2 separate regions of the Homo sapiens genome follow, and region 1 is linked to region 2. Evidence: fine-mapped expression QTL. A gene starts in region 2. The other region holds a variant in brackets. All regions are shown on one strand. Distances are from middle to middle.

Region 1 (5,355 bases), 140 kb after region 2:
CACCATGTTGGCCAGGCTGGTCTGAAACTCCTGGTGTCAAGTGATCTGTCCACCTCAGCCTCCCAGAGTGTTGGGATTACAGGCATGAGCCACTGCGCCCGGCCACTTTTTTCAGTTTCTTCAGAGGAAATATATTTCTGTTTGGGGGACTTAAGTATCTAGTAGCCATTTCCTGAGCTGTGTACATTTCCTATTTGTTTATGCTAACATGAGTCTATGGGGCCAGGCACAGTGGCTCCCGCCTGATGCCAGAGCTTCAGGAGGCTGAGGCTGCAGTGAGCTGTGATTGCCACACTCCAGCCTGGGTGAGAGGAAGGCTCTGTCCTTAAAAAAACATAAACAAACAAAAATAAAATAAAATGAATCTAGGGACAAAGTGAGGGATTTCCATCTTCCTGCCACTAGCGGCCGAGACAGAGGCAGGTGGCCATCGCCTTGGGAGCCGGCAGTGTGGCGTGCTTAGCCACTTTGTGCAGGGCTGAGCAGGTAGGGGATGGAGCCAGCAGAACTGATCCGAGGAAGTTACATCAACTCTCTAAATCTGTCAAGGAACACCCCCCTCTCCAAAGTGGAATTACTAGACAGAACTTAGGGAAAACGTGGGGTGAGGCCGAGTGCTCTCTGTGCAGCAGCAATTCGGGCCTCTGGGTGCTGTCCTGGAGGGGCACGCAGCAGGATACCACTGTGGAGGATCCTCTCCCTGAAAGAGAAAGGGGCCGTGAGCAAGGCCTGACAGCCACCAGGATGCTTTCCCGGGTCTCGCTCCACACTGACAGGAACCACCCCTGCTTTATTTTCCTTTGATCTCGTATTTGTAGAAAGCAGCAAACATATACCGTGGGCCTGCCACTAGATAGCTCCCGTGCCTCTCTAACCATCCTTCAATGAGGCTAGGAGTCTCTGCCTTTCAGAACCTGAGGCTGGAGACAGCGAGTACCGGGGGCACCGGGGTGGGAAGTGAACCTGGGCCAGACCCAGCTGGCCCTCAGGGAAAGCAGCACCCTGGAGCCCACCCCAACAGCTGCTCTCATTGTCTGTGGCTCACCGTCTGTGGCTTCTCCGTATTTGCCACACATATATGACTAGATGAAAACCTTTTCTGACTTAGGTTGTAACAAATCTTTTTTCATGATTGATGAGACATTTGCTTTCCTCTGAAATTTTATCCCCAAATATCCCTCCAAAAATAAGGATTTTCCAAACCAGCAATGCAGCTGTCCAGTCTTTTTATCATGCAACCTCTTGGGCCTTCTCCCACCCCCACCTGAGAGATGACAGGAAGCCCGAGGAGTGAGTGGAGTCTCTTTCCTCCTTTTTGATTCTGAGGTTTTGCATCTGAAGACGCCTCTGACTCACCCTGGATCCACGCTGACCTGGAGCGGACTAATTGTCTGAAAAGGGCTCAGGCCAGTTGCACGTGTGATATGTGCACGTCCCTCCATGTGTAGATACCTCAATACACATCTAGAATTGGGTGGAAACCTCTCATAAAAGGAGGCTCAAGCTGCACCGCTGGGCGGCAGGCAGGACAGCAACCTGAACACAGCCTCTGTTCTATTTCCCCTTCAGCGCCAGGGAGGGCAGGACAGAAACCTGGCGTTGGTGAGATTTTGTGGCTGATCCCACAGCTTCTTGGGCAGATCTGGGGCCTTCTGTGCCAGAGTTTGTGGAATCTCACACAGGCAAGAGTTTTAAGCCAGTAAATACAGGACATCGGCATCAGAGACTCAGAACTGGGCTCCTGGAAGAGGCACCACAGGATGGAAGCAGGAAGCCAAGTGCACGGCAGACCACGCCGCATCGCGTTCCCGGCAGGCCACTCTTTAAACCCGATCTGTTCTTTTCCAGGCCTTAGCTAAACCAGGCCACCTAAATACCTGTCATTATCTGTGATGATTTCGCATTAATTGGGGTTTTTGTCCCTTCTGTTCCTTTTCTTAAAGGCTGGCTTCTTAAACACTTCCAATGTGTCTGCTAGTTGCTCACTGTTATAGATTGAAGTTATGGGGCTTGGGGGAAAAACTGTATAAAAGCCTTAAGTGATGTAACATTTTAATAATTAATATGAAGGGCGGCTATAACCAGATAC[G/A]CTGTTCTAACAATTCCAGACCTGCAGGAGCTCATTCTGACCGAACGTAGCCTTGGCTTTCAGGACAACATTTTTTGTCAGTGACTTACTATAATCACAATGTGGCTACGAATAGCTGTGTCAGGCAGAAGTTAAACATGGAAGTGAAAGAGAACAAGTGTTTTCCCTGATGTAATGGACAAGATGTGTTAAGAAATCTTGTTTTGGTATACACTTAGTTTTTTTAGAGACAGGGTTTTGCTCTGTTGCCCAGGCTGGAGTGCAGTGGCCTGATCACAGCTCACTGCAGTCTCAACCTCCTGGGCTCCAGTGATCCGCCAGCCTCAGCCTCCCACGTAGCTGGGACCACAGGCTCCCTGAGGTAATTTTTTTTTTTTTTGAGACAGAATTTCGCTCTTGTTGCCCAGGCTGCAGTGCAATGGTGCGATCTTGGCCAACTGCAACCTCCGCACCCCACCCCCCCCACCACCACCACCGGGTTCGAGCAATTCTCCTGCCTCAGACTCTCAAGTAGCTGGGATTACAGGCATGCACCATCACGCCAGGCTAATTTTGTATTTTTAGTAGAGACGGGGTTTCTCCATGTTGGTCAGGCTGGTCTTGAACCCTCGACCTCAGGTGATCCGCCCGCTTTGGCCTCCCAAAGTGCTGGGATTACAGGCGTGAGCTACTGCGCCTGGCCTTCCCCGGGGTAATTTTTAATTTTTTTTTTGTAGAAGGGGGTCTCGCTCTGTCGCCCAGGCTGGAGTGCAGTGGCGCCATCACGGCTCACTGCAACCTCGACCTCCTGGGCTCAAGTGATCCGCCAGCCTCAGCCTCCAGAATAGCTTGGCCCACAGGGGTGCGCCACCGCCTGGCTGATGTTTACAGTTTTTTTTTTATAGAGGGGGTCTTGCTATGTTGCCCAGGCTGGCCTCAAATGATCCTGCAGCCTCGGCTTCCCAAACTGTCAGGCTTACAGGCCTGAGCCACTGCGCCCAACCTAAACTTAATTTTTAACCAAATGAAAATACACAAAACAAACCTGGTTACTAGAGGCTGTCCTGCCTATGGAGTAGCCATTCTTTATTCCTTCAAAACAATGCACCTAATTACTAGAGAACACGCACGAAGGTTTGGCACTTCAGCGCCCGCGTATGGGAGTTCTGGCTGTACCCACAGACAGCAGAAGGCGGCTCCTCTGCAGGATGGCCGATTTACTGCTTTGGTCTGTCCCTTCCTCCTCTCGGAGGCGAGTCTCTCAGGCAGGACGGCTGAGGCACCGGCGCCCGCGATTTTCTTTGGCGAGAGTTCCAAGGCTACCGAAACCCTGCGCCCATCCCGCCCACGTGTCTTCACAAAAACCACGCGCGGGACAAGAGCTGCCGGGGACTGGGGCCCCCAGAGCCGCTCCGCACCCACCCTGCCCGGGGCCAGGCGCCCGCGCGCGGGGGAGCTCTTCGGGGTGCAGGACGCCCGCCACCCAGGCCAGGCCAGGCCGCGCTTCTCGATGGGGTGACGGAGCTGTCTCGCTCACGTAGAGACGGTGGCACGGCCCCGTGAGCGCACCGAAAGCGGAAACCGGATTGTCACCACAGGGAAACGCCGCGCCCGCCGCTGCAAGCCCGGAAGCCCCCACCCCGCCCGAGCTCACCTCGCCGCGGGGCCGCCATCTTACCCGCCCCGCCCGCCGGTCCGTCGCGATCCCGGCAGCCTCTCGGCCCGCGCGCTCGCGCTCCTTCGGCCATTTTCGCGTCTCCTGACGAAGGGGCCCGACCGCGCCGCGTTTCGGGAGCGGACGTCCGAGCCACGGCCGAGGCCCGATTAGTCCGTCCGGCACCGCTCGGGCACTTTCGGAAGGGAAGAGGTGGAGAACCGACGTTCGGGAGCATTCGGCCTCGGGGACATTCGGCTCGTCTCGGCTCGGCCTCGGGCTGACTCGGCTTCCGCCGGCGGCGGGAACGGGCGAAACCCGCGGCACTAAGCTCTCTCTGAGAGGCAGAATTGCGCCGGCCGCCGGCGAGAATCTGCCTAGAGCCGTCCAGCCCTGTCGGCCGGGGACGACAGCCGCCTCAGCCTGTCAGGACAGTGAGGAGAGCAGGGGCCGAGTCTCTCGGAAGCCCTCGTGAGGACTCGGACCTATTCGGACTGATTCGGCTTCCCACTTCGGGGAACTTCGACCCTCCTCGGTTCAGGACTCGGTCTCGGCTCGGCGGCTTCGTGCAGGTTCGGCTCCTACTCGGGCAGCCTCTGTTCGCCTCGGCTCCGCTCCGCGGGCGGACTCGGCTCGGCTCTGCTCGGCGGCTGGCTGCCTTTTCGGTCCCTATTCGGGCGGCGGCTTCGGGCGGCCTCGGCCCAGCTCGGGCGTCCTCTTCGGGCCCCGCTTCGGGCTCCGCGACCGGCGCTTCGGGCGGTCCCGGACGGCGCCTTCGGGAAGGCTCGGCGGAGTCCGGATGGAGGACTCGGACTCGGCGGCAAAGCAGCTGGGCCTGGCTGAGGCGGCGGCGGTGGCGGCCGCGGCCGCTGTGGCGGCGGCGGCCGCGGCCGCGGCAGGAGGCGAGGCGGAGGAGCCGGTGCTGAGCAGGGACGAGGACTCGGAGGAGGACGCAGACTCGGAGGCGGAGCGGGAGACGCCGCGGGTCACGGCAGTGGCGGTGATGGCGGCGGAGCCCGGGCACATGGACATGGGCGCCGAGGCCCTGCCCGGCCCCGACGAGGCCGCCGCTGCCGCAGCCTTCGCAGGCAAGTGCGCCCGCCGGCCTCTCGCCTCGTCCGGTTCCCGCGCGCCTACCCCGCGCGCCTGCCCCGCACAACTGTCCCAGGTGACCAGCCCGCCACACCTGTCCCTCACACCTGCTCCACGTGACCAGCCCGCTCCACCCGCCCTGCACACCTGCCCCTCACACCTGCTCCACGTGACCCGCCCGCCCCACCCGCCCTGCACACCTGCCCCACGTGACTAGCTCACCCCTCACATCTGCCTCTCACACCTGCCCCACCCGCCCCTCACACTTTCCCCACGTACCTGCTCCAGGTGACCAGCCTGCCCCACCTGCCACAAATACCTGCCTCGCACACCTGCTCGACGTTTCCAGCCTTCCCCACCTGCCCCACGTGATCGGCCTGCCCTACCTGCCCCGCACACCTGCCCCACATACCTGCCCCAGGTGACCAGCCTGCCCCACCTACCCCAAACACCTGCCCCGCACACCTGCCCCTGGTGACCTGCCTAGCCTCACCTGACCTGGCCCTGCCCTGCACACACCTGCCCCCTGCCCCCCTTTTCT
Region 2 (5,333 bases):
AGGTCAGGAGATCAAGACCATCCTGGCTAACACGGTGAAACCCCGTCTGTACTAGAAATACAAAAAATTAGCCGGGCGTGGTGGCGGGCGCCTGTAGTCCCAGCTACTTGGGAGGCTGAGGCAGGAGAATGGCGTGAACCCGGGAGGCGAAGCTTGCAGTGAGCCGAGATGGTGCCACTGCACTCCAGCCTGGGCGACAGAGTGAGACTCCATCTCAAAATAAATAAATAAATAATAAAAAGAGACTAGCAAATTAACCCAAAGAAAGTAGAGGAAAGGAGTCCAGGTGCGGTGTCTCATGCCTATAATGCCAGCACTTTGGGAGGCCAAGGCAGGTGCAATCACTTGAGGTCGGGAGTTCACAACCAGCCTGGCCATTGTGGTGAAACCCCATCTCCATCAAAAATATACAAAAATTAACTGGGCGTGATGGTGGGCGCCTGTGGTCCCAGCTACTTGGGAGGCTGAGGCAGGAGAATGGCATGAACCCGGGAGGCGGAGCTTGCAGTGAGCCGAGATGGTGCCACTGCACTCCAGGCTGGGCGACAGTGAGACTCCATCTCAATAAAAAAGAAAAAAAAGAGGGGACACAGATACCCAAGCCAGCCCAGAAGTCGGGGCAGAGCCAGCCACTGTCCTGGGAGGCCTGTGAATGAGCCCCTGTGGGAACAGGACGTGTCACTTCCTAGCGACTCAGGAGCCCTGACAGCCAGGACAGACCCCTGGTGCCCACAGACAGGACAGGGGTCATGGAGGACCTCCCGCCATCACTGCTGACTCACCCCTGCTAGCGGCCGGGGGAGGAAGCCCTAGCGGGTACCTCCGGTGAGCTCATGCCAGCCTGCCCGCTCCCCACGGCATTCCCGGGGCCGCACGTCACAGGCTGGCAGGAGCCTATGGGCCTGCAGTAAGGGCGGAGGAGGCCACTCAGACAGCAGAGGGGTAGGGGCTCAGACAGGCCCCAGCTCAGCCCCTTCCTAAGCTCTCCAGGCCTGTTTACGGTCTGTTAAAGGGCAGCCCTTCCTTCATCCTGGCCGGGGTGGGGAGAATGGAGCGTGGAGGCAGGTGGAGCCTGGCAGACTGGGAGGGTTTTTCCTGGACAGGCGACCCACACCAACCTGAGGGGGCAGCACAGACAGGCTATGCCCCTCCCCAGATGCCCCGTGCCCGCCCGACCTGCAGCAGTGGGCAAGCTGTGAGCATGGGGAAGCCAGGGAGGGCGTGGGGTGCAGACAGCAGCTGAGCGCCCTGGGCCACGTTTCCAGACAGCACAGCCAGGTCTGGACTTTCGCCGCCCCGCCTGCTCTGCCCCACCCTGGCCAGCACTCACCAGCCGGGCTGGAAACGACTCCTCTGCAGGACAGGTGGACAGAAGCTCCCCAGGACTCTAGGCTAGAGGGGCAAGGACATGTCAGGTCACAGGTTACAGGTCTGGCCCAAGGGCCAGAGTGGGCCGGGTTCATTCTGGAGGCAGAGAGAGGAGTGGCCAAGCCCGGTATTTTAGTCTGGGCTAGGGTGGGGCAAGGCACAAGACATTTTGTTTTTTTCTTTTTTTCTTTTTTTGAGATGGAGTTTCGCTCTGTCACCCAGGCTGGAGTGCAATGGCACGATCTCAGCTCACTGCAACCTCCGCCTCCTGAGTTCAAGCAATTCTCCTGCCTCAGCCTCCTGAGTCACTGGGATTACAGGCACCCACCACCACGCCCAGCTAATGTTTGTATTTTTAGTACAGACAGAGTTTCACCATGTGGACCAGGCTGGTCTCGAACTCCTGACCTTAGATGTTCCACCCGCCTTGGCCTCCCAAGGCAGACGACATTTCGGGACAGTCTGATCCTGGGAGGGACCTCATACCTTCCCCCAGGTGCCCCACTCTTGGCCTTCGCTCCAGACCCATCACTGGCCCTTCCCCCACAAACAGCGGCAGCTACAGCCTGGGAAAGAGGCATCATGGAATGGAGCTGGAGGGGGACAGACCTTACCACTGAGCTGAGAGGGGATATTCACCCTCCATGAAGGAGCCAGGGCCTAAATACACGCAGGAAGGGTGGCACAGGCAGACCCTGCCACCAGCGGGGGGATGTGTCTGCCACCGGGGGGCGGGGTGTGCGTCTGCCACCGATGGGGGGATGTGTGAGCCCCTCAAGGACCTGCCCCTGGCCTGGCTGTAAGGTCCCAGGCTTTCTGGAGAAGTTGGTTCTGGGCACAGATGCGTCCTCCACCGCGAGGACACAGGCGACCCGCTGAGGAGTGGCCCCTCTTCCCAGGAATGCCTGGTCCCTCTGGACCCCCTGGGAAAGGGCCTTCCAGAAATAGTTGTCTGTTCCTCCCCAAGTCCCCGGGACCTGCACCAGGCCCCTGGGCGGCCCGCGCCCTATCAGGGGGAGCCCCAGTCAGGGGGACCTGGGACTCCGCGCCTGCCAAGCGTCCCCGGGGCACTGCAATGAGGTCACCGCCGCCGCCGACCCCGCCCGGCGCGGCCAATGGCGCGCCCACTTGCACGCGGGCGGGGGCTGCTGCGGGCGGAGGGAAGACTGCCGTGTCCAGGGACAATGAGCAGGGTGTCCAGGCTGCGCGTCCCGGGACCCCTGGGCTGAAGGGGGCCGTCAGGCCGGTCCAAGGGCCCGGGAGGCGCCTCTCCTTCCCGCTGCGCCTCCCCAACCCGCCCGGAGTCCGCCTCCCGCGGAAGGGCAGGCGAGGGAGCTGGGGCAGGCGAGGGAGCTGGGCCAGGCGGTGGGTGCGGCCTCCCGGAACCTCCCGGCGCCTGCGGCTGGGCCTCCGGGGCTGGGGCGCGCAGGGCCTTCGGCCCCCTCGCGCCCCTCGCCCCCCTCGCGCCCCTCGCCCCCCTCGCCCCGCTCGCCCCGCTCGGCCGAGCTGTCGTGGCCGCGCACTCACCTACCACGCGTCCGAGTCCGGGCCCTGGCGGCGGCGGCAGCAGCTGCGGGGGCGGCGGCTCCCAGCGCTGAGAATGCGCGGCCCGGAGCCTACGAGGGGGACGCCCCGCCCCGCCCCGCCCCGGCCCCGCCCCGGCCTCAAGCCCCTCCCGCGGCGGCGGGCGCTCGGCAGGTCTGAACCCGCGTGGGTGTAGGCGCTGGGGGTCGACCTGGCACTGCGGAGGCCGGGCGAGCTGCAGCCCTGGGGGCGCCAATAGCCCAGCAAGGGCCCATCCCGTCCAAGGACGGAGGAGCTGGGCGGGAGGCGGGCCCGGAGGTAAGACGGCGACCAGCCTAGCCAGAGGCCCTGGGCTGTGGCGACCCGGCCCTCCTCCATGCCCAACCCCCATCTCTTTCTCCTCACCCAGGAACCGCCCAGAGGCTGCAGGGGTCGGCAGAACCGATGCCGGCCTGGGGCGTGGGAGGGCCTAGCGCTGTGGGCAAATGCGGGAGAAGGGCTACTGTACGTGCAGTGTGGACAGCCTGGAGACCCGGGCAGGCCTGGGGTCCCAGCGAGACATACCCATGGGGTCCTGGGGGGCCCATGCCCTCCAGACTGGAAGGGACCACTGGGAGCGGTGCGAGGAGGTGAGGGACGAAGGGCAGGGCCGGCCTAGGGCTGCACCAAGACGCCAAGAGTGGGAGTGAGGAAGGAGGGGGCTGCCCACCCACCAAGCTCATTCATCACAGCCACAGGGGAGGACCAGCATGGGAGGGGGTGGCCGACTGAGGCCGGGAACCTGCCCGGCCTCCCTGGCGAGACAGTGGGGAGCCCTGATCCACACACTGGCGAGGGCCCCGAGGGGCTCCAGCCTTGATGGGTAGTGTGAGTTTGGGGCATGACCAGGGACACAAGAGGACACGCAGGACCTCAGCCCCATCGCCACAGGCCCGCGCTCCCTGTATTCACCCACACAGCACGCGTGCACAGGTGCCCACCTCATCCATGTGGCACACACAGGCTGTGGCTCCCAGACACACGGAAGGCCCAGGAGGACGCAGTGCAGTCAGTGGGTTTTATTTGACGAGGGGGTTTTCTGCTGAACTGAGATGGGGTTGATTGAACGGGGACAGAGCGAAGACTGGCAGAGGGCACACACGGGACCCTGGCCACTCCCGGGACCCTGACCACTCCTAGGCTAGGTCCTTCATGTCTTCAGTCAGGCGAGCCTGGGGCCCACTGGGGAGAGCCTGCATCCTGAGTGGGCACCCCCGACCCATGACAAGCCTCCTGCAAGGGCAGCTTCTAGCTCATGGTCCGTGAGTCACTCGGGGCTGGTCACCGGGCACTGGGAAGGTGGCCAGAGCCGCGTCTGGGGGGCCGAGCCCAGCAACAGCAGCAGCAGCAGGTGGGCCCAGGCAGGCGGGCTGTTGTCAGAGCCTTCCTGCAGCTGCTGCCCGCCCGCCTGGCCTCGCAGGCGTCCCTGTCATCCCGCAGCCGTGTATTCAGCTCCCTAGGGAAGGAGGAGTCCGACACTGAGAGGGTCTGAGGGAGCTCAAGGTGGGGGGAGGTGAGCTCCGACTCCCCTCAGAGCGAAGAGAGGTGTCTGGCTGAGGCTGCAGCGTGAGGGGTGAAAGGCAGGCATAAGGAAGGACTTCCAATGGAGTAGAGCGGCAGCCAAGAATGTTGGGGAGCTGGGAGCCCCCAAGCTCCGCTGAGCCCATTCCCTCTCGGGCCTGAGCCTGACCGTACCTGAGCAGCTCCAGTTGCCGTAGCAGGCTGACTTTCTCTTTCTGCATGTTCCTGGAGACGGCGACCACGTCTCTGTGGATGGGAGGTGGTGACCCGGCTGCAGGAAGGCTCCTTGGGGAGCCCCCGGACCCCCTAGAAGATCCTCCTTCCCACGGGGCGGGCCTGGGACTTGAGATGGGGATGAAAGTGGCCCAGACCTGAGCGCCCGTCGGCCCCGCCCCCGGGACACGCACCGGGGCCCGCCCAGCCCCGTCCCACGGCACCGTTGGGTTTGCTCCTGGCGGCCTCGTGCTTCGCTCTCCAGCCTGCGGATCTGCTCCTGCGCCCCCTCCAGCTGCGTTCGCAGCGCCTCGTGCGCCCGCCACAGCTGGGAGTTCTGGGCCTGTGCCTCCAGGTGCTCCGCAGCCTGGGCGTGCAGCTGCTGCTCTAACTGGAGGGTGGAAGGATGGAGACCGGCGAGGAACGCCCCCTCTTCCCCGGGGTGCTGCGCGTGCCCCAGGCTCCCGACAACCCGGGGACGCTAAGGCACAGGGGGAGAGTGCACGGGTGACCGTGGGGACAGGGCAGGGGCCGGGTGCTCACCTCCCGCTGCCGCAGGCCCGCGCGTTCCAGGTCCTGCTCGCGGCTCTGCAGCTCCAGCTCCAGACGGCTTCTCCGCTCCCCGCGGGCGAAGTTCTGGGACGCACGGAGGACCACTGAGCCTCCGC

Evidence for each region.
Region 1: its variant is fine-mapped to the expression of CD151 in whole blood (TOPMed, PIP above 0.99).

What each region holds. Positions count from the first base shown.
Region 1 is chr11:694,214-699,568 of GRCh38, reverse strand. DEAF1 (DEAF1 transcription factor) reads left to right here and starts at 4,347. Exons shown (of 12, transcript NM_021008.4): 1 at 4,347-4,810. The coding sequence starts at 4,522. TMEM80 (transmembrane protein 80) reads right to left here and starts at 3,753. Exons shown (of 5, transcript NM_001042463.3): 1 at 3,723-3,753; 2 at 681-700. The coding sequence starts at 3,741. RefSeq lists enhancers at 2,209-2,748, 3,289-3,828, 3,829-4,370, 4,371-4,910 and silencers at 3,356-3,775, 4,276-4,575, 4,586-4,705, 4,726-4,975. The variant G/A (reference allele first, on the strand shown) is at 2,090.
Region 2 is chr11:830,589-835,921 of GRCh38, reverse strand. It overlaps CD151 (CD151 molecule (Raph blood group)), which reads right to left and starts at 2,970. Exons shown (of 9, transcript NM_004357.5): 1 at 2,896-2,970; 2 at 1,331-1,392. It overlaps CRACR2B (calcium release activated channel regulator 2B), which reads right to left. Exons shown (of 9, transcript NM_001286606.2): 6 at 5,209-5,301; 7 at 4,890-5,056; 8 at 4,627-4,698; 9 at 3,936-4,387. The coding sequence ends at 4,213. RefSeq lists enhancers at 1,034-1,573, 3,730-4,267, 4,268-4,807 and silencers at 2,405-2,634, 2,645-3,294, 5,147-5,333.